Regions from separate parts of the Homo sapiens genome. Here region 1 is linked to region 2. The links come from fine-mapping of genetic effects on gene expression. A gene starts in region 2. The other region holds a variant in brackets. All regions are shown on one strand. Distances are between the middles of the regions.

What was found.
Region 1: its variant is fine-mapped to the expression of LPCAT1 in lymphoblastoid cells (TwinsUK, PIP 0.95).

What each region holds. Positions count from the first base shown.
Region 1 is chr5:1,489,396-1,497,395 of GRCh38, reverse strand. It overlaps LPCAT1 (lysophosphatidylcholine acyltransferase 1), which reads left to right. Exons shown (of 14, transcript NM_024830.5): 3 at 2,482-2,696; 4 at 7,538-7,650. It overlaps LOC124901162 (a long non-coding RNA gene), which reads right to left and starts at 7,865. Exons shown (of 2, transcript XR_007059103.1): 1 at 4,723-7,865; 2 at 1,877-3,924. RefSeq lists an enhancer at 2,260-3,459. The variant G/A (reference allele first, on the strand shown) is at 3,072.
Region 2 is chr5:1,519,296-1,534,349 of GRCh38, reverse strand. It overlaps LPCAT1 (lysophosphatidylcholine acyltransferase 1), which reads left to right and starts at 10,390. Exons shown (of 14, transcript NM_024830.5): 1 at 10,390-10,640. The coding sequence starts at 10,506. RefSeq lists a cis regulatory region at 8,998-9,233, silencers at 10,003-10,402, 10,423-10,732, 11,003-11,202 and an enhancer at 12,363-12,867.

The DNA.
Region 1 (8,000 bases), 33 kb after region 2:
TGCAGAGCCGGGGCCTGCGCCTGCCCCTCACGCTTAGACGTGTGGGCTTCCCCCACCCACCTCCACATGCCAGCTGGCTTGAGGAGATGCAGGCCTCAGCGGCCTTCCTCCTTTTCCCCCTGCATGTTCTGGGAGATTTCCTCCTCCTCATTTCCCAGTCTTTCCTGTGAGTTGCTTGTCTCCACAGTGACAGTCTTGGTTTCTGAGAGTGTTTTCTTGTTCTTTGATGCTCCTCAGCGCCCTGTTCTTCCAGACTCTCTTGGCGAGCGTGGTGGATGTTTTGCACCCCTCTTCTGATGCCCACCCTTTCTGTCTCCTTGGGGTCAGTCCTCTGCTTCTCTGCCATGCAGCTGCTCTGCTCACACGTCTCAGGATTCTTGGGTGTCGTCCGTGTGAGGGCGGTAGGACGGAGTGGATTTCCTGGGGGTGCTGATGGAGATCCCCGCTCCTGTGTATGCAGATAGATCTGTCTCCTGATTCACATTCCCCTGGGAATGGGCTGCCCAGGCACCTGAGCACCCTGGGCTTGTGCTGGCTCCCTTTGCCTTGGGGTGAGTGGGTGCTGGGTCCCCAACCCCACAGCAAGCGGAGCTTTTCTCTGAGGCTGTCATCCACACCAGCAGTCCGGGTTTTCACATGTGGATAGTTTGGGTATAAAATTCCTCCAAGATCTTTAGAGAAGAGCTGAGGCTGCTTTTTCCCTGCCCCGACACCCAGTACAGTTCCCCTGAGCACCGTCTGTCCCTGCAATTCGATTTCGGGGCTGGCAGGTGTGTTCCTCTAAGGGCCGCCCGGGTTTTAATCCCTTTTTTCCTGCTGTCCTCTCTCCTGCCCCTGAACCTGCCCGAGACTGGCTCCTGTGCCCGCCGCAGCCTCCTCTGCAGCCTCGCTTCTCCCTCCGCCGCTGCCTTGTTTCTTCCATCTTAGGCATCAATTGCTGTCTTTTGGCTTTTGTTTTTGTACTTTTTTTTTTTTTTTGTGGAAAATAACATGTGCACAGAAGAGTACATCTTTATTTTTTAGTTTAGTTTTCTTGAGATGGAGTCTCACTCTGTTGCCCAGGCTGGAGTGCAGTGGCGCAATCTCGGCTCACTGCAACCTCCGCCCCTTGGGTTCAAGCAGTTCTCCTGCCTCAGCCTCCTGAGTGGCTGGGATTACAGACGCCTGCCACCATGCCCAGCTAATTTTTGTATTTTTAGTAGAGACAGGGTTTCACCATGTTGGCCAGGCTGGTCTTGAGCTCCTGACCTCAAGTGATCCACCTGCCTTGGCCTCCCAAAGTGCTGTGATTACAGGCGTGAGCCACCATGCCTGGCCAGAAAAGTACATTTTTAAATATGCAGCTGAACAGGTGGTGAAGAAGTGCACACCTGTGTAATCCCCCCTCCTCTAGACAAGCAGCACCCTGGGTTGGTCCCCAGCATCTCCATGTGTAACTACACCATTGTTTATCATCGCATACACAAAGGCCATTCCAAGGTGGCCCCACGAGAGGAGGCTTTGTGCCCTCCTAGCAACCGCCTTGGCTCAGATCCATGGGGACCCCTGTCCTGGAAGTCTTCTGGGAGGATCATCTGTCCCAGGGCAATGTGAATCCAGTAAGGCTTCAGGCTCTTGTTTCTCTGTGCAGTAGTTTTACCCAGTGTGATGCGCCCACTTAACCCAGTGGCCGAGTGAGCCGTGGCTTCTCATGAGGCTGAATCATGTTCTCTGTGTGCCTGACCTGTGGCTTCTCACACACCGTGGCTGTCTGCTGCGTGTCAATTCCCTGAGGTGTGGAATAACAGCCTAATCTGTAGCCTCATATGAAAGAGAATACACACATTTAAAAGGCTAAATTTGTACCTATTTTAAAAAGAGATAAAGAGTACACAAATTCAGTTAACCTAGGCTGATTTTTACTTTATTTTCCAAATTTATTGGCCATCTAATTTCCTCCAGAAACAGCTCACTGTAATAACACAACGCCTGGTTGTGGGAACCCCGGGCTTCCTGTGGAGATGAGATGGGGAAGTTCGCACGCAGGTCTCAGCTTCCGCCCTCAGCTCTGAGCGCCCCCCCCCCCATATTGCGATATGCGTTTTAGGTGTTTTAATGTTTTTCCCATTTCAAAATGATAGGATGCTGATAAATAAGTTGCTAACATGAAGGTCCGGAGGTCTTCTGGCCTGGGACTTGTGCTGTCTGTGTTCCGGAGTCTCATGTTGTCTTAGCACTGCCTGCCGCGTGGCCCGTGACCACCACACAGGGCCCCGCGGCCTCCTTCGTAGGTGAGAGCGCAGCCAGCGAGGACACAGGCGGAGGCCAGGAAGGCGCGGCGTCTTTTCTTCCCTCAAGCAGATGTCCCAGCGGCGGCGACCACAGGAAGCCCGTGGCCTGGACTGCGCCCTGGAGGGCTCTCCCGTGGGACCGCCCCTGTGCCTCACACAGACTCCGAGACTGCGGACGTGTGCCCGCGTGACGCAGCGCCCTCTTTTGCAGGGTTGTGGACTTCCTGCTGAAGGCCATCATGCGCACCATGTGGTTCGCCGGCGGCTTCCACCGGGTGGCCGTGAAGGGGCGGCAGGCGCTGCCCACCGAGGCGGCCATCCTCACGCTCGCGCCTCACTCGTCCTACTTCGACGCCATCCCTGTGACCATGACGATGTCCTCCATCGTGATGAAGGCAGAGAGCAGAGACATCCCGATCTGGGGAAGTGAGTGAGACACCCCTGCTGGGAGTGAGGGACCCTGCCCTGCTGGGAGTGAGAGATCCCCCTGCTGCTGAGAATAAGAGATTCCCCTCCTGCTGGGAGTGAGGGTCCCCCCTCTGTTGGGAATGAGTGAGACCCCCTCTGTTGCTGGCAATGAGGGACTCCCTGCTGGTTTTTAGGGACCCCCCCTTCTGGGAATGAGAGATCCCTCCCTGCTAGGAATGAGGGACCCCCACTTGCTGGAAATGAGTGAGACCCTCCCTACCGGGAGTGAGGGACCCCCCCCCCACCACGCTGCTGGGAGTGATCGAGCCCCCACCGCCGGGCACATTGGCCTTGTGCCCCATTTTCTGTGTTGGGGTTTCCTGTGTAATTTTC[G/A]TTGTTGTAATTGTTATTTTTATTGCTACCTGAGTGCCCTCACTATCATAACAGGCTACAGTGCTTGCTCCAGGTCTGCTTGGCAAGGGTGGCTCACCTTTATCAGATGGCAGTTCTGGAAGTCTTTGGGAGCAGGTCGGCAGGGCTGCCCATGCACCGCGGCTGTGCCGTGAACCAGGGACCTGAGCACCTGGTGCTGCCATGACCCCTCCCCAAAGCCGGGGGCTCACTCCAGCAGAGATTCACCCTCTCGTCATCTGGGGACCAGATGTTCAAAATCAAGGCGTCTCTGGGCCGAAGGCCCTGTGCGGCCCCTTCCTGCCTCTTCCTCCTCTGGGGGCTGCGTCCCTCTGACTCTGCCTCAGTGGTCGACTGGCCTGGCTCCCTCCAAGTGTCTCCTCTATGAGTCTCTTATAAGGACCAGTCATTGGGTGATCCAGGATGCTCTCATCTTGAGATCCTTAACGAGTTACCTCTGTAAAAACCTTTTTCCAAATAAGGCCTCATTCACAGGTTCCAGGGTCAGCATGTGGACCCATCTTTGGGGGCCGCATCCCATGGACCCACTGCTCTGGGAGGACTGTAGGGAGCCCTGCGTGGCCCCTCACCCACCTGTGCGCAGCCCTGACCCACCAGAGCTCTGTCCTCGGTGCTCTTCAGGGCATCTGGGCCCGTTCTGTCCTCGTGCTTCCTTCACAGCCGCCATCAGCACAGCACAGCACGTTCTGGGGCACAGCGGGTCCTGGGTTGGCAGTGGGCGGTGCTGAGGGAAGGAGCTGCTGGGACGAGGGGCGTCGCCTATGGCCGGGGCCCTCACCTGGCCACTCCTGCCGGCTCTGTTTCCATGCAGCACCTAACGTTAGCATTCATATGACAGTTTTCTAGAAAATATCTGGGGGGACACATTCAGTATGGACTGGGTGGGGACACATTCTGTGGTGCTGACCACTGAGGGTGGTGGCCACAGCTGGGATAGGAAGGCTGGAAGTGGGGTGAGGAACCCTGGCATGGCCCATGGGGGATTGGGCCTGCAGCAGCCGGAAGGTGTCCAGACTGTGCCTGCAGCTGGGCAGTTGTGGGTGGCCTGAGTCTGCCTGGGTCAGGCTTGGAAATCGGGGATGGTCCTTGGTGGGACTGGAGGGCTCACTGCACTCGGCTGGCTGGGGAAGCCTGGAGGAGGCTGGACAGGCCGGCACTGGAGGCGAGACTGGACTGCAGGCACCATCCGAGTGATGGCCTTGGCTCTCACACGCAGGTTTCCCCGCTCTGCAAGCTCCACAGGCTCATGGGGCAGCCCCAGCTCCACTCAGCACCCTTTGCATCCTGTGGTTCTGGCATACCCAGGAAACCACATTTGCCCCCCCACTGTGGCAAAGGCCCATGGTCGTTCGTCATCTGCTCAGGGAGGGGGATTGTGGAGCTGTGTGCCCAGGCACCCTCGCAGCTGCAGGGGTCCTTGGACAGGGGGGCTGGCCCACCCAGAGTGAATCTGAGCGTTGGCCGGGCTCTCCCTGTGCCCTTGGTGCCTCCCTGTGGAGATCACCAACACGAAGGAGTGTTTGGTGCGGTGATGCTGGACGTTGTAGTCCTATCTTTCTAGAGGCCCGGGATTCCACCTCTTCCAGATCAACCCAGGTGACCCAGCACTGACCTTCATCTCGGCGCAGCAGGAAGAATGGCCACAGCCATGCTGCTGTGTGCAGGGCCCTCGTGGAGCCCTGCGTGTTTCTTGTCATTTCAGAGATAATCCACGGACCTGCGAGGGAGAGGATAGTGACAAGCTTATCAGAAATTTTCGTTAGAATTCAGACTTAGCAGGAACCACATTTTGCTCCCTGCTGTCCTGGCCTGAAAGGGCCATTGTCCTGGGGCGTGGCTGATGACTCCTCTACTGCGCACCTGGAGCACCCTCTGATTCGGGAGCTCAGAACCATCTCCCCAGGCTCCAGCTCAAAACCATCTCCCCAGGTCCCAGCTCAGAGACGTCTCCCCAGGCCCCAGCTCAGAGACGTCTCCCCAGGCCCCAGCTCAGAGACATCTCCCCAGGCCCCAGCTCAGAGACATCTCCCCAGGCTCCAGCTCAGAGACATCTCCCCTTGTCCCAGCTCAGAGATAATCTTCCCCCATCCCAGCTCAGAGACATCTCCCAGGTTTCCAGCTCAGAGACATCTCCCGTGGTCCCAGCTCAGAGATAATCTCCCCTGGTCCCAGCTCAGAGACATCTCCCTGGTTTCCAGCTCAGAGACATCTCCCATGGTCCCAGCTCAGAGACATCTCCCTGGTTTCCAGCTCAGAGACATCTCCCCTGGTCCCAGCTCAGAGACGTCTCCCAGGTTTCCAGCTCAGAGACATCTCCCCGGTCCCAGCTTGTGGTGACTTCTGGTTCCTTTCGTGGACCCTTTGACAGCTCACAACTTTGTTGAAGAGATGAATGTTGAAAATGTTCAAAATATTTTCATTTTTAGATGTATGAATACCAATGAAAGTGATCAACCAGGTAGATTTTTTCCTTTTCACATTCTTAGTTTCCTTTCAGTGACCTTCATATCCGCACCATCCATTTACAAACCTTGTCAAGGAAAGTTTGAGCCTCAAATGCCCAAAAGACGGCAGAACGCTGTCACCTTCTTGCTGGCAAAATGCGCCAGTCCCAGTGTGGCTGTGCACACGGCGTGGTGACACCCTTCCCTCCTCAGGGCTCCCGGGGAGGAGCTGCATCTCCTTGCTGTCCTCACTGCCCAGTTCTCAGCGTGAAAGGCACACCGGGCAACCCACATGAAGACGCACGGCCCAAGACTTCACTCAGAGTCCTCCCCCTGCACCCCCCACATTTACCCCCGGACCCATCTGAGTGTGAAACGCCCCCACGTCACTGTTCTGTTCTTTGCCGTTATAGACAACTTCTGAAATCTCTACTCTGTTCACAAAACAAACCAGCTGACAGGATTGCGAAGGTGGCAGGGTGGCATCTCCAGACCCCGTGTGCCCCGGGACGACCATGGGACGCTTTGGCCAAAACAGTGGGCACCGAAAGACCACGCAATCAGGGCCATTTCTTTGACGCGTGCGCCATCCTGCGAGACGACTCCGCCATTCTTCCCTTCCGATATCGTCCTTTTTAGCAGAGTTGGGAATAACCAATGAGCAAGGATGAAATAGTACTGGAATCGTGAAAAAGCAAAATGATTCAAGACATAGGAAAGACCACAGAGACCCAACAGACAACCACAGGATAGAAGGAATTTTCTTTTTTTGGCTTCAATTTTCTCGTTCTTGGAGGAGAGAACCTCCAAGAAAGAATAAAAGTCATGAAATGCTACTCCTTACAAGTAATAAAAACGCTAAGAAAAGAAACTGGAAACTGAACTGGGGTGGGGAGGTGGGGCTGACCTGCAGCAGCCTAGGAGCCCGTGGTGGGGTCAGAGACACCTTCAGTTGGCCTGGGGGGCGCCGAGTGTGGATCCTGCTCACCGTCCTCAAAAAGGAAGCTCCACTCAGGGATAGTTTCATTTTAAAGTCTTCAGAGTTTTCTCTTCTAAGAAGTATGTTTCCACGTTCAATCCTCTTGCATAAAGACAGGTGCCGTGGCCACGTTGCCTTGGCTGAGCACCAGCCTTCATGGCGGGGTGTCCCTTGTACCCCAACCCCGCAACTTCCAGGAGGCTGTGGGGTGCCATGGTTAAACTGGGGCTGTGCTACAAAGCACCACAAAGCTGGTGGCTTAGAACAACAGGAGCATATTCTCCCGCCGTCTAAAAGCAGAAGTGCCAGAACAAAGTGCTGGCCGCATTGGGCTCTTCTGAAAGCTCCCTCGGCCCTCCCGGCTCGTGGTGGGGGCTGTGGCCACATCCTCCTATGGCCTCCTTCATCATTGGCCTTCTCTCCCCCTCTTCGTCTCCTCTTCCCATAGGGACCCTCATCTGGGATTTTAGCTTGAGCATCTGCTTTGTCTCCTCTTCCCATAGGGACCCTCATCCGGGACCTTGAGCATCTGCTACCACCTGTTTCGAAATGAGGTCCCATTCCCGGTACCAGGAGTGAGGACTTCAGCTTGTCTTTTAGGGGATGCAGTTCAACCCACAGGGGGAAGGCGGGGTCCAATCTAGGGACCTGGCACCTTCAACCCTGTCCTCTGTGAAGACTGGGTCTAAAGACTTTCTGCTTCCTGGCGGTTGTCTTTCATTGACCTCCGTTCTGTGCTCCGTGTCCTCAGTGGGTGCCATGGACTTGCTGTTTGTTACTTGTGGCACTGAGGCTACAGGGCTTCCTGCTGTCACAGACATGGGAAGCCCGGGTGCTGTTCCCGTTCCCTCAGTCAGGGACTCACAGCCCACCCATGGCACAGCCCCTGGGGCATCTGGAGTCTCCCGCCCCACTGGGCGCCATGCAGCAGCCCCCTCGTTCCTCAGCCCTGCCTGGCGGGAGCCGTGCATTCCACGTGATCCGTCTCCCCTCCTCTCTTCCAGCTCTGATCCAGTATATACGGCCTGTGTTCGTGTCCCGGTCAGACCAGGATTCTCGCAGGAAAACAGTAGAAGAAATCAAGAGACGGGCGCAGTCCAACGGAAAGTGGCCACAGGTAATGCACGTAGCCCTGATTGTGTTTCAGTGGTTTTATTCCGAAAGATGCGAACTTCGCGAGTGGGGAGAAAGAAACTGGGGCCCTTCCTCCGGGGCTGGATTCTGATTCTCTTCTCCTAGTGAGTGCGTGAACTCAGGAGGGTGCTGTCAGGTGCATTTGGTTTCGGTGCCCGAAATTTAAAGTTAAAGTAAAGAAAAACAATTCTCAAATGCATCTCAGCTTCCTGAATCATCTTTTCTGAACTAAGTTCTGACTCAGATAGAGCATTGCTCACCCGCCCTCCTGGTGCAGTGTGATTTTGGAGTTGATGTGTCAGCCTGCTGTGTGTTGGGTGGTTCTAAAAGTCC
Region 2 (15,054 bases):
CAATTCTACATCTATAGGTAAAAAAATAAAAATAAAAAACTCGTATCTATACCTCATACCATGTAAAAATTAACTCACAATGGATTATAGACCTAATTATAAAATATAAACTATAAAACTTCTTGAAGAAAACAAGAGAAACTATTCATAACCTTGAATTAAGCAGAGATATTTTTAGATATAACATCAAAAGCATGATTGTTTTTTAAAAAGGTAAATTGAACATAAAAAATTAAAAACTTCTCTTTGAGAAATATTGTTAAAACAATGAAAAAGCAGCCACAGAATGGTACAAAATATTTGCAAATCACTTATCTTATAAAGAAATTGTATTCACAATATATAAAAACTCTCTAGACCCATTAATAATAAAACAAAGAAAAATACTGTAATGAGAAAAATATTTGAACACATCAGGAAGATTTGTGGATGATAAATGAGCACATGCACAGATGTTCTAGGTCATTGTTCAAAGGGAAAGCAAATTAAAATCATAACGAGACGCCACTGCATATGTATTGGAATGCCTAAAACCTAAAAGTCTTACCATACTAAGTGTAGGCAAAAATATGTAAGAACTGAAACTCTCATACACAGTCTGGGTTGGGGGATGTAAAATGGTCCAACCCCTGTGGACAAGAGTTTGAACGTTTCTTTCAAAATGTATCACCCAGCTTCCCACTGATAAGTATTTATCCAACAAAAATGAAAGCCATACATCCATACCAAGACTTGTACTCAAATGCTCACAGCATCTTTATTTGTAATAGTTCCAAACTAGAAACAACCCAAATATTTATCAACAGGAGAATGGATAAACAAATATCCATACAATGGAATACTATTCAGCAATAAAAACAAGTAAATGATTGATAAAAACAAAAAAAAAAGGTGAACCTCAAATAGTTATGCTGAGTGAAATAATTGGAACCAAAGAAGAAACTGTATGATTTTATTTGTATAAAATTTCAGAAAATGCAAACTAACTTACAGCAACAGAAAGTAGAACAGGGGTTGCCTGAGGATGAAATGTGTAGGGGTGGGATGTAGGGATTACAAAAGGGAGTGAAAAAGCTTTTGGGAATAATAACTATGTTTCCTATCTTAAATACAGTGGCAATTTCATAGGGTGTGTGTGTGTGTGTGTGTGTGTGTGTGTACATATATATGTGTGTATATATAAAAACAGCAAAATGTCCACTTTAAATTTATGTGGTTTATTATATATCAATTATAATTCAATAAAGTCATGATAAAAAGGAAATAATGACTATTAGTTTTCTAAATTTTATTAAAAGTATAAACCCATAAATCAAAGAAGCTCAGTGATTTCTCACACACAGGTACATCATAACTGATTTGCAGGAAAACAGTAATAAAGACAAAATTTCAAAAGCAAATAAATATACAAACAAAATAAAAACTTGTTGAGTTAGAATTCTATATTTATCAGGGGAAAAATCCTACAAAACGAAGGTAAAATAAAAAAGTTTTTTATACAGATCAAATCCAAAAGATTAGTTGCAAACAGCTCTGCACTGCAAAAAAATTAGTAAAATTTCTTCAGAAGGCAGAAAAGTGATACAAGAAGGAAACTCAAATCTCAAGAGAGCAATGAAAGTGCTTGAAATGGCAAACATACAGATAAATACAAAAACCTCTTAATTTTTTTAAAATCGCTTGAAAAGACTTTGTTCAAGACAAAAAAATTATATATTGTGGGGCCTACAGCATATATAAGAGTGAAATGTATGAAAGCACTAGCTTAAAGGATGAAAAGGGAAGTGGAAGTGTAATACTGCAAAGGTCTTCAATTATATGTGAAGCAGTGTATTATTTAAAATGTCTTCCAATAATACACATATTAATAGCAGATACTAAAAAGTTAAAACAAAGAGGTATAGCTGATGAGCCAATGGTGGAGATAAAATACTAAATTAATCTAGAAGACTGCAGTTAAAGAGTAAACCAAAAGACCAGATAAGACAACAGAAAACAAATAGCAAGGTTGTATATTTAAATCTAACCATATTAACACATCAAATATGGATGATCTAAACATGCCTATTAAAAGACAAAGATTTTAAGATTAGATAATAAAGCAAGATCCAACTCTATGCTGTATACAAGAAACCTTCTTCAAATATAAAGCCACAGAAAGATTAAAAGGATGGAAAAATATGCCACGCAAACACTAAACATAAGAAATCTGGAGTGACTATGTGAATATCAGACAAAGTGGACTTCAGAACAAGAAATGTTACCAGAGGCTGGGCGCAGTGGCTCACACCTGTAATCCCAGCACTTTGGGAGGCTGAGGCAGGTGGATCACAAGGTCAGGAGTTCAAGATCAGCCTGACCAACATGGTGAAACTCCACCTCTACTAAAAATACAAAAATTAGCTGGGCATGGTGGTGCGCACCTGTAATCCCAGCTACTCGGGAGGCTGAGGCAGGAGAATCACTTGAAGCCAGGAGGTGGAGGTTGCAGTAAGCCGAGATTGTGCCACTGCACTCCAGCCTGGGCGATAGACTGACTCTGTCCCAAAAAAAAAAAGAAAAGAAAAAAAAAAAAAAGAAATGTTACCAGAGTAAAAGAGAGACATAACATAATGATGGAAAGGTTGATTCACCAGGAAGACAGAATAATTTCAAATATATATGTACCTAATAACATAGCTTCAAAATATACGAAGCAAAGACTAACAGTATTGAAAGGTGAAATAAACAAATCCACAATTATAGTTGGTCTTTCAGTCATTCATATAACAGTAACAGAAAAGCACAAAGATACAGGAAGCTTGAACAAAACTATCAACCAATGGAGTCAACTGGCATTCATAGAACACTCCACACAAAAACAAGAGAACCTTTTCTTATAATATACACCTGAACAGTCATAAACACAGACTATAAAAGGATTGAAATCATACAGAGTATGTATTGTGACCACAAATAAGTTATAATAAAAATTAACTGGAAATTCTCCAAATATTTGGAAGTTAACACATAACAAAAAAGCCACAGTAATCAAAGAAGAAACCACATGGGAAAAGAGAAAGTACATTGAAAACTGAAAGAAAATGAAAAATCAGCATGCCACCATTTGTGGAATGTAGATATGGCAGAACTTAGAAGGAAATTTGTGGTATTACATGAGGCAGGTCTAAAATCAATGGTCTATACTTCCTACTTAGGGAAGTAGGAACAGAAGAGCAAATTAAACCTAAAATAAGGAGAGAAAAGAAAATGATAAAGACAGAAATCAACAAAAATAGAAAACAGAAAAATAATAGGAAAAAATCAATGAATTCAAAAGGCAGCTATTTCTAAAGATCAATAACAAAATACACCTCTAGCCAAAGTGATCAAGAAAAAGGAAGAAGACACAAATTACCAATATTATAAACGTGAACAAGGGCTATCAGTCTAGATCCTATAGATATTAAAAGGATAAAAGGGATTATGATAAACAATTTTATGCCAATAAATCAATAACTTAGATAAAACGGACAAATTCCTGGAAATATCTAAATTACTAAAAAAATTTAGGTTTTTAGATGGAAGAAATAGAAAAGATGAATAACACCTATCTAATGAAGCACTCAAATTCATAATCTTTAAATCTTTCTGAAAAAGAAAATTCTCATTCCAGATAGCTTCCCTGATGAACTCTAACAAACATTTAAGGAAGATATAATACCAACCCTACTCACTCTTTACTTAGAAATAGAGAATTTGGAATACTTCCTAACTCATGTTTTAAAGACAGTATTATCCTCATTAGAAATCAGGCAAAGACATTATAAGAAAGGGAAACTACGGCCAATATTTCTTATGAACATAGACACAAACATCTTTAACATAAATTTATCAATTTAAATTCGGTAATAAATCAATCGTGTAGTATGGTTAAGTGAGGCCTATCCAGAAAAACAAGGTTGGTTTAAAATCAGAATATGAACCAATTCAATTCACCATATTCACAGGATTAAGAAGAAAATTTTAAGATAATCTCAATAGACGCGAGCAAGCTTTTTGGCCAAAATGATAAAAACTACTCAGTAAACTAGCAATAGAAGGGAACACCCTCATCCTTTTTCAGGGCATCTGTGAAAACCCACAGCTCATGTCAAGACTGGGCACTGGGTACTAACAATCCCCAAGATTGTTAACAAGACAAGATGCCCAGTCTCAGCACTCTGTCCAACATTCTGTAGAGGATGTCACAGTCAGTGGAACAAGAGGAAATGCAAACAACGAAAGGCATACGTGTTGCTGGTGAAGGAAGAAATAAAGCTCCTTATTTACAGGTATTATGATTGTGAAATGGGGAAAATCCTAAAGAATCTACAAAAAAAGTCACTAGAACTAATAAATGAATTTAGCAAGGTTAATGCCTACAAAGTAAATACATAAAATCAGTTGTAGTTCTATATACGAGCAACACACTTCTGGAAATTGAAATTAAGAAGCAGTATCATTTATAACAGCATCAAAACATGAAATAGGAACAGAATTCGAAAACCTATGTAAGACCTATGCAGTGAAAATTATAAAACATTGCTGAGGGAAATTAAAGAAAACCTAAATAAATGATCTGTATACCATGCTCATGGATGGATAACTCAATATTGCTAAGATGGCAATTTTCCCAAATTGATCAATAGATTCAACACAATCTCATTAAAAATCCCACCAACCTTTTGTTTGTTTGTTCCTGGATACTTCAGTTTCTTGACAAAATGATTCTAAAATTTTGGCTGGGCATGGTGGCTCACACCTGTCATCCCAGCACTTTGGGAGGCCAAGGCGGGCAGATTACCTGAGGTCAGGAGTTCGAGACCAGCCTGGCCAACATGGTGAAACCCCGTCTCTACTAAAAAATATAAAAATTAGCTGGGCGTGCTGGTGCATGCCTGTAGTCCCAGCTACTCCGAAGGCTGAGACAGGAGAATCGCTTGAACTCAGGAGGCGGAGTCTGCAGTGAGCCGAGATCGGGCCACTGCACTCCAGTGCAGTGCAGTCTAATTTCAAGACTAATATAAAGCTTTAGTAATCAGTATAGTGTGATGTTGGCAGTTGCAGATGTACAGATCCATGGAACAAAATACAGAGTCCAGGAATAGACTCAACTATACATATATGGCCACTTAATTTTTTTACAAAGTTGTCAAGGTAGTTCAATGGAGAAAGAATATTCTCTTCAACAAATGGTGCCGAAACAGTTGAATATTCAGACGAAAACATTTGAAACTAAAAAACCTCTGCCTCCACTTTACTTTATGCCGTGTACAAATGTCAACTTGAAATGGAATACAGACCTAAATGGTAAAGCCAAAACTGTAAAACTTCTGAAGTAAGAAAATCTGAATGACCTTGATGCAGGTAAATATTTATAAAAGAGGATACCAAAACCATGATCCCTAAAAGAAAACGCTGATAAATTGGACTTCATCAAAATTTAAAATATCTGCTCTTTGAAAGACACTATCACTGCTTAACAAACCATCTCAGTCTGTAGTGACTGAAAACCACCACAATTTTCTGTTTGTCATGATTGTGGGTTGAATAGGAAGTCCATCCATTGTACATGATGGAGTCCCTCACTCTGGGGCTGTGCACTCCTCATCTGGAACATCCACAGGTCCTCTTGTACCCTGGGGTCTGTCTTCATACAACCTCTACACAAGCAGTAGTGGTTCTCCATATAATCCATACTGTCAAGAGTAATTTTTTTTTTTGAAAGAGAGTCTCGCTCTGTTCTTGCCCAGGCTGGAGTACAGTGGCGTGATCTTGGCTCACTGCAACCTCTGTCTCCCAGGTTCAAGCAATCCTCCTGCCTCAGCCTCCCGGGTAGCTGGGACTACAGGCGTGTGCCACCACACCTGGCTAATTGTCATATTTTTAGTAGAGATGGGGTTTTGCCATGTTGGCCAGGCTGGTCTCGAACTCCTGACCTCAGATGATCCGCCCACCTCGGCGTCCCAAAGTGCTGAGATTACAGGCATGAGCCACCGCGCCCGGCCCAAGAGTAATTTTTGAAACGATTATTACATCACTGCAGAAGTATGAAGCATCAAGGAATTAACAAAAATACAGAATCTTTATGTAGAAAAATTTAAAATGCTATCAAAGGGCATGAAAGAACATCTAAATAAATGGTAGAATAACCATGTTGGTGAAAAATCGTTCTCAAAATTATAAAGTGTCCATGCCACATCATCCATTTAAAAAATTTTTTTTTTGTATTTTCTAGTGCTTTGAAGCCTTGGAGCCTTGGAGCCTTGCTGGCCCTTCGAGGGCCCCTCCCAGGACCAGCCAGCTCTTACTGAAGTAACATTCTTAGGGAACAGGGAGAATGAACAGTAAGAATGAAGTAACATTCTTACTGAAGTACCCTGTACAATTAATGTGATTCAAAAGGAAGCTTCCAGCGGGAATTTTTAGCAATGGGGACAACTGCTTCCAAAATTTGGATGGAAAAATAAAATTCCCTGAATTCCTACTACAATTCTTGGGAAGAAGCGCCAACAGGAAGGAACCCCCTCTACAGTTACTAAGGCAGACGGTTGAAAGGTGTGAGACAGGAGTAAAGGAGTACGCGGACCGGCGGGTGAGACGGGAGTAAAGGAGTACACGGACCAATGGGTGAGATGGGGCAGCCAGAAGGAGCTTCAGGAACCCTTCTTTCTGTTCATGCTGGAAGTGGACCCACAAGTGGGAGTCTGTGATTGATACGTGGTGTTGAGAATATCAGGTCTCCATGCAGAGAAAAAAATCTTCAAATAGAATAAAATGCAACCATGAAAGGCAGAACTGAAAAAAGATGTTAGTAGAAAATGAAGGAGAATATCTTTTTCTATCCTATAGATAACTCTAAAATTCAAAAATTAAACAAACAAAACAAAAATACTCAGCCTTACCAGAACAAGCAGGTACCTTGTGTTCTCAATGCACTTGGAGTATAGGAAACACTTCTCTGTGAGCTTACACTCTTAAAACAGAGACAAAACCAGAGCAAGAAGCCTCAGGGGTGTGGTTACCAGCCCCAGGGAGCTGTGGGGGGCTTCCAGGAGGTTCCTGAGAACCACAGTGGGGGCTCCCTTTGTAGCTAAAGGGCCCTTAGGGTGGTTTTCCCAAAACTAAGTCCTAATGAGAAACTCATGTTTCCCCTGCTAGACAGAGAAAACTGCTTATACCTCCCCACCCAAGACCAACTTCTCTTAGTCAAGCTTCCAGACCCTCCAGGTCTTAAGAACGTTCCATTACATAGCAGAACCAAAGCCTAAGTGTGAAGGCCCAGTGTGGGTGGAGGAATTTCCTTGCTGCTCCTCCACGCTTGCGCTGATTTCCCCATAAGCAGCCCCTCTCCCCCACCCCTCGCAGTCCCCAGGAGAAAACTGACTCCCACACACAAGAGTGCCCCAGCTCCCCACCCCCTGGGCACGTGCCCTGTGGACCATCCAACCCCTTCCAGCTGCAGCAGAGAAGGAGTCCCCGCTCCGGGCCCCAGGCCTTTCCTTCCTCTGAGCGCAGAATCCTTCCAGACTGAGATGGGCCCATGACACCCCCTCTCACAGGGGTTTTCAACGTCTCCTGTGAGGCTGGCCTGTTGCCTTCCACCCAGGAACATGTCCTGGGCCCCTTCCTTGAGCTGCTGCCCTGGATCCCAGCCTCCCGCCAAGCATCCATTTTCCTCCTCCTGCCCATCACGCTTCCTCCTTTCTCAGGTAGCTGGGAAAGAACCTCTGTAACTCCTGCCCACTCCACAGCACCCTGCAGGGTGGTGGTCTCCACCCTTGCTACTACCACTGGCTGGCCTTCCCAGTTCTCTCCTGGCCAGTCCTCCTGGATGGGGCAGTTCCGTGGACTCAGCCCCTCTGGGGACCTCCGCTCCTTGGCCGCTCTCTGGGGCCTTCTTGGGTTCTGCTTGGTGAGGACGAGTGTGCCCCAGTCCTGCCCCCTGCTCTGCACAGCCCTTGGCCCTGTCACACCCACCCTCCCAGCTGTGCCCCCTTGTGTACTGACCCCGGAGCTGGGCCTCTGCGCCTCCTCCACATGGTGCCTGTGACCCAAGGATCCACTGAGCTTCTACACCAAGGCCACGCTGCCCACAGTGGCTCCACCTAAGACCCCTCTGGGAGAGGGACTCCTCTTTCCACCGACCTTGGCTCAAGGACAACCTGCTGACCCTGCTTAGATTGCCGGGCAGTATGAGGTTCTTCCCCCAGCCTCCCCACCTCCTTCCCTGGGTTCCAACTCACTTTGCACTCTGCAGGTTAAAGCAGAAGGAATTTATTCTCTCCCAGTCTGGAGGCCAGAAGCCTGCGATCATGGCACCCTAGGCCTAGGCTCCCTCTGAGAGCACTAGAGAGGACCTGCTCCAGGCCTCTCCAGCTCCTGGGAACTGCTTGCCTGTAGCAGCAGAACCCTGGCCTTCCCATGGAGCTCTCTCTGTGTCTGTCTCTGAGACCGAATCTCCCTCTCTATAGGGACACAAGCCATTTCAGACTAGGGCCCACCCTAATGACTTCCTCTTAACCTGATCATCTGCAAAGACCCTGTTTCCAAATAAGGTCGCGGCCACAGGTGCTGTGGGTTAGGACTTTTGCATCTTCTGGGGACACAGCCATGACTCTCTGGCAGCTCTCCCCATTGAATCTGGCTCTGCACCATCTCCAGCAGGTTTCCCCTCCGCCACACACCGCTTCCTGGCCTGTGCTTCTGGGAGGACCCCACTTTCATGGCTCTCCAAGTCCAGTCCTGAGGCTGCTCTCATCCCAGGACTGGGACACCCTAGGGCCCCTCCTCTCCAGAGCACTCAGGCAGCAGGTGGGGCCGCCTGGATCGCTGGGGTGCAGGTGCTGCCCTGTGGCTGGCAGGCTTTGTGTCCTGGGCTTTCTTGATGATCAGTTCGGTGAGGAGCCTTGGGTGGCCTCGGGTGCTGGGCTCTGGTTTTGGGGATCAGAGCAAGTGGCCACTAAAAGCCCAGGAGGTGGGTGCAACGCTGGTGGCTGGGCCACAGAGCCACCAATGCCCACCAGCACACAGGGCTCACCCCATCCCCGTGGGTGTGGCACTTGGGACAGGTGCTGCTGCTAGGCATGGGCTGGGACTCTTATGGGGCAGGAATATGGGCTGGGACTCTTATGGGGCAGGAATAAGGCCATGCAGCGGGTCTGGCCTGCCGGGGCCTTCTCTGTGCATGATATGTGGATGGCACAGACCCCTGGCCCTCACCCCGGTCTCAGACACAGAAGGGTCTCTGCCAGCCCGCTGCACTATGAGGTCCACAAGGGCGCAGGCAGGGTCATTGGAGGGGTCGGGGCACTCCCTGGCGTCTGCTGAGGATGGGGCCCAGCTGGGGCCAACACAGCAGTGACATCCCCAGGAGCCAGGACCCTGGGGGGTTGGCCAGGTGGCCCAAACCGGCTCTGTCTGGGTGAGGTCCGTTGGCCATGAAGGAACCAACAGGGCCAGCCGGGGTGAGGAAGCCGTGAGCACTGTGACCGAAGGCCTGCGTGAGTTCTGAAATCCAAGCGTGTTCACCCGGAGGCAGGAGCCCATCCTACTCTCGCTCCGGCTAATTATGGGCCCCACCCTGGGGCTCCTCACACGGCTCCTGAGCACCACAAGGGCAATGCCCGAGCCAAAGCAGCTACGGGTGAGAAAGCGCTGGGATCTCATCGCAGCCCCTGCACAACCAGCACGGACAGTCAGGGCCCCTATGTGCGCCTCCTGCCTGGGCCATCCCTGCGGGGCCTGAGGCCTGAGAGGTCCTGAGATCGGAGGGGTCCTGAGGTCTGAGGGGGTCCTGAGGCTTGAGGGGTCCTGAGATCTGAGGGGATCCCGAGGTCTGGGGGGTCCTAAGGTCGAGTGGACCTCAGGCGGGAGTCGCCTGGGCTGAGGCGCGGCTGGAAGAAGCTCCCTCAGCCCGGGGCAGCTTCCAGGGTCGCCGGTGCGAGCTAGGAGCCCAACGAATAAGAAGAATGGCGTGGGGCCTTCGCCGGAACAGCCCGGGGCTCGGCACCCAGGGCCTGGCCCGCCTTGCGCGTAAGCTGGACGCGTGCCCGCCCCTTCCTCCCTCCCCGCGAGCAGGCGGGCCGAGCGGCGGAAGGGGACGACGTGGCAGCCTCGCGGGCCCGGGGGACCTCCCTTTCTCCTGGCGCAGACCCTGCCGGGGATCCCTGTGCTCCAGTGGCTGCAGGAGGCGCCCCCGGTCCCCAGCGGCCCCGGCCCCCCACAGACCCCAGAGAAACCACCAGGTAGCGGAACTCCGGCTGGTGCCGCCCCTGCCGGCCGGCGGGAGGCGAGGCTTCCAGGGACGCCCCGCCCCGGCCGGCGCTCCCGCTCCGCCCACGTCACCTCCCGCGCCTGCGCGCCCGGCCCGCTCCAGCCGCCGCGCATCCTCGGCCCGCGCCCCGAGACCCGCGCCCAGCTAGCCCCGGCCCCGCTCGGCGCCCCAGGCAGCTCGGCTGCGCTCGCCGCGGGACGGCGCGGCCATGAGGCTGCGGGGATGCGGACCCCGGGCCGCCCCTGCCTCCAGCGCAGGGGCCAGCGACGCTCGGCTGCTGGCGCCCCCGGGGCGGAACCCCTTCGTGCACGAGCTGCGCCTCAGCGCCCTGCAGAAGGCCCAGGTGGGTGCCCAGGGCGCGCGGCCCCGGGAGCCGGCGCGGACGCCAGGGATGCTGGGGCCAGGGAGGCGCGGCCGAGGAGGGGCCGGGGAGGGGGCCTGGGGCGCGGCGCGGCCCTGCGAGCCGCGGCGCCTTCCCTCCCCGCGGCCGCCCCTCAGTTCGCGTCCCCGCCGCCCGCACCCGATGCCTCGGTCTCGGCGCCGGCTTCCCGCCGCCCGCACGCGCATCCTGGTCCCTCAGCGCCTTCCTCGGGGTCCCCGCTTCCCATCCCCGCCCCGCGTTCTGCTCCTCCCCCCAGACCCCTGCACCCTGAACCGGGCCCACAACCCTTTCTCTGCCTCCCAGAGCCCCGACCTCGGCTCCCGCGGGAGGCTGGACCCGCATCGCCGGTCCCCGCGCTCGTCCCTGGTCCGGGCCCCGCCCGCCTTGGCAGGCCCTGCGCGCAGCCCGGGGACTCCGGAGCGGCTTTGCCTGGACGCGGCCCGCGGGCGGGAGGGCACCGCGGCTCTGGGTGAGCCTCGTGTGCGGGGCCTGGTGGTGCCCGGGACAGGGCGCGCGGGCGGTGCGGGTCCCCTGTAGGGTCCCCTGTAGGCGCACGGGTCTCCCTGCTCTGCGGCCGCACGTTGCCTTCTGGGGTGCATGCTTCGCTCCTGTTGTAAGGGATGCTTTCTCGGGGCTGGTCTGACCCGAATCAACTTTATGCAACCTGGGCTGCCACGTGGGAGGGAACGGTTTGCTGAGATCCTGCGATGGGACAGTGGTGAGGGGAGACCCGGGGGCGTCGTGGGGAGGGGGCCGCTCGCTGCAGGAAGCTGCACCGGGGATGTGCTGGCTCAGCCTGGCTTTTCCGGCTACCTGGCTGCCAGCTGGGCTTACAGTTACCTGAGATCCACTCTCAAGAGGACCTTACTTTTGACTCTAGAATAATTCCTAGAAGCAAGCACTGTTTCGGGGCCTATGGGGCTGTCCGGTTTGTAGGGAGCACGCTTCCAATTGTGAGAATAGATTTCCGGGAAGATGGAGATTTGTTAATGCATAAAGTACTTTATCTGAAAGAACCCTGAAGTGAAAAGTTCTTGAGGCCAGTTTGAGCTTGTCATTTTCCCAGGACGCCTGCTTTTGCTCAAAGCCCCTTGATGCGGCTGGTCCTCAGGGTATGGAAGGGGACGGGGAGCAGGAGAGCCCGATGGTGCCGCCCCTCCTGGTGACACACAGGGTGAGGTCGTCCCCAGCCTGGCTCCCAGGCCCTGGCCCCCGTCTCCCTGTGTGTCGGGAGCTGGACTCTGGGGCTGGGGCGGTGCCGGCCCCTCTGCCGCCGCTCTGCCTGGCCCTCTGTCTGCCACACGCTGTCAGCTGCCGTGTGCTGTGCCCCTCAAAGGAGGACTTGGGACACGGTCGCTCATTCTGTGCCCCTCAACCATTCCTCCTCTTCAATCCTCACCCCCACCCAGCCACCAGGCTCTCTCCCTGGTCACTCTCCCTGAGTCACTCCCAGCAGGCTTTCTTCCTCCTGCACTCTGCTGCTCGGAAGCCCTCAGCGGGGACGCCCCCGGATGAAATTCGAACCCCTGCTGTGGTTTCCAGGGCTTCCCCAGCCCTGCTCCTGCCCCAGCTATGGCTGCCTCAGGCATGCTCTCTCTTCCTGCCTTTCCTACTCCCTCCTGGCTCCCTGGGGGGAAACATCAAGCCCCTCCCTGGAGGTCCCCGGAGGCCACTTCGTCATCCCTGTCATAGTTGCAGCCCCCGGTTGAGGTGTGTTCTGTCCAAAAGTGTGCACCCACTGCCCTGGCGAGAAGCAGGGCAGAGACTCTCATGGGTAGGTACAGATGTCAGGGCACTGCCAGAGTGCCCAGAGGGGCCTGCTTTCCTCCCCGAGACCTCAGGGTGCAAGCTGCTCCCAGTGGCTCTTGGGCAGGGGGTCATCGAGAGGCTCCTGGTCCCGAGATTGAAGGCTTTGGGCAGCTGTTCTCCCTTGGGCCGAAGCCAGGCAGAGATCCTGGCTTGAGGTGTTGGGGCCTCTCAGAGAGGGGGCTTGCTTTGTTGCCACTTCAGAGGTTCCATCTGAGGAATTAGGTGTGTTTGTACATCCAGTCGTTTCTGCTGGATGTCTGCAATGTGTGGCTCAAGGGTTTAGTTTGTAAACGTTCTCAAAGTTCTCTGCAGAAACATTTTGCTTTTCACCAAGCATTGCTTTGCAAAGCTTTTACTTTGATGTGATATATTCTTGTAAAGTTTCCACAGAGTGAAATAGCCTGTCTTTCAAGCCAAGAAAGCCTTCTTCCCCAAAGAAAGAAATGGGTCCAGTAGTGGCTGACACACTCAAGAACCCGCAGAAACCCAGCTAAGTTCCCAGTTGAGATAAACCAGTGAGTACCTGCATTTACCTGTGAGCATTTGCCGCCTGGGAGGGGCTGCTGTGTGTCTTCGGATTAGCGCCATGCGGGGACACCTCCTCCTCCAGCCAGCCCATCTGTCATTTAACTACAGATTTAGTGAGGAGCTTAAGTATCTCTTTGGACAGAAAACAGCACATTAAGATCTGAAAAGAGGTATCAAAGCCATCAGGGTCTGTAATACGTGCAATGTTTTAATCCTCTGGCTAAAGCAAGGATATAGATTTAGTAGAGAGCGGTAAATGGTATGGTACAGGATCTTAGTGAGTTCAGCTGAGGTTCTTCATAGTCACACATTCATATATCGTTTTGGAGTCATGAAGTGGTTTCTGTCACCCAGGGTTTTCTCGGTACTTTCCTTGGAATCTGTGGGTATGAGTATTTCCCACTATGGTTCTGATGCGTTTTCCCCATTTCTTTTTTTTTTCTTTTTCTTTTTCTTTTTTTTTTTTTTTTTTTGAGACAGTCTCTCTCTGTCGCCCAGGCTGGAGTGCAGAGGTGCGATATCGGCTCACTACAAGCTCTGCTTCCCGGGTTCACGCCATTCTCCTGCCTCAGCCTCCCGAGTAGCTGGGACTACAGGCGCCCGCCACAATGCCCGGCTAATTTTTTTTTGTATTTTTAGTAGAGATGGGGTCTCACCGTGTTAGCCAGGATGGTCTCGATCTCCTGACCTTGTGATCCTCCCGCCTCGGCCTCCCAAAGTGCTGGGATTACAGGCGTGAACCACCGCGCCCGGCCCATTTTCCCCATTTCTAAAGTCTCTGCTGCTCGGAACCAGAGTTGGCAAGAACTTACATCCTGGAAAGCATAATGCCTTCCTGTGCACCTTGGAGCTGAGTCCTTGGACGGGCGTTGCTGTCTCAGAGTGGAGGAGGCTGCTGGGTGCCCGCCTGCCCACGCTGGCTAATCCACAGAGAGGATTATGATGAGGGTTGAGTCCAGGGACAGATTCTGCCCCTCCCTGCCTGGTGGCCCTGCATAGAATTTACCCAAAAGTGGGCCATCTTTTTCTCCACATTTTTATACAAATACCTGAGTTGTGATTTTTTAAAAAAACTCAGGAGCAGGACTCCGCCCTCTCAGCCTCGCTCCTGAGTCCAGCATGGCCACTGCAGAACAGGAATTCGTGTGCCTGCACACGTTGCCAGGCTCCTCACGTGGATGGCTGTGTTTGCAGTGTGTTCTTGACCCTTGGTGCCCTCCAGGCACACATGCACGGGGATGGGGGTTCCTCAGGCTTCTCTGAGCTGCTCCTGCTGCCCACTGGGTCCCTGGGTGCTGCCTGCCTGGATTCAGTAAGACTGGCTCTTCGCTCAGCCCCATTGCCGGGCAGTGGATGTGGAGGGGTGGGGTGGGCCAAGGAGCCCTGGGCAGTGTACCCGGTGGGAGCACAGGGCAGCCACACCCTGTGGAGGATGTGCAGGAGAGTGCCTGTCCCTTGGGGAGGATGGAGAAGGCCAGGGCTGTACAGGGCCTGCTGTCTCCCTGGATGCCTCAGAGGCCTTGGAGACGGTGCCAGGCCCATGGCCCCCAGCTGCCTTCTGATGACCTGGGTGTGATGGTGCCAACTGTTTTGGCCCAGTAGAGGCCCAAGCGTCATTTTCCCGTGTCCTCGCCTCTGGTCACTGTCATCCTTTGCCCCAGGAAGCACAGGTGAGGACACAGAGGCCCAGCTGCTGTGCCGTCTCCCAGGCAGGGAGGGCAGCGTGGGCTGGCTTAGCATGGATGCCTGCCCTCACCTCACAAGGAGCCCTGACCTTAGGGAACTGGCTTTTTTCTCAAAGTCATCGAGAGCGTTCCTGTAATCCTGTCTAATTTTCCGAATGAATTTTCCGAATGACGCACTCGTGAAACTTAGTTGTGGTTAACTTTGCAAAATGGGAAGGGGGGTTCAAAATCGGAAAAGACTTTACTTTTCATTTTTTATAGCATTCTGTCCTAAAACTTGGGTTTCTAATATGAGTGTGTGTATGAGAATATGTGTGTACACACATGCATACACATATACATAAGTGCATACA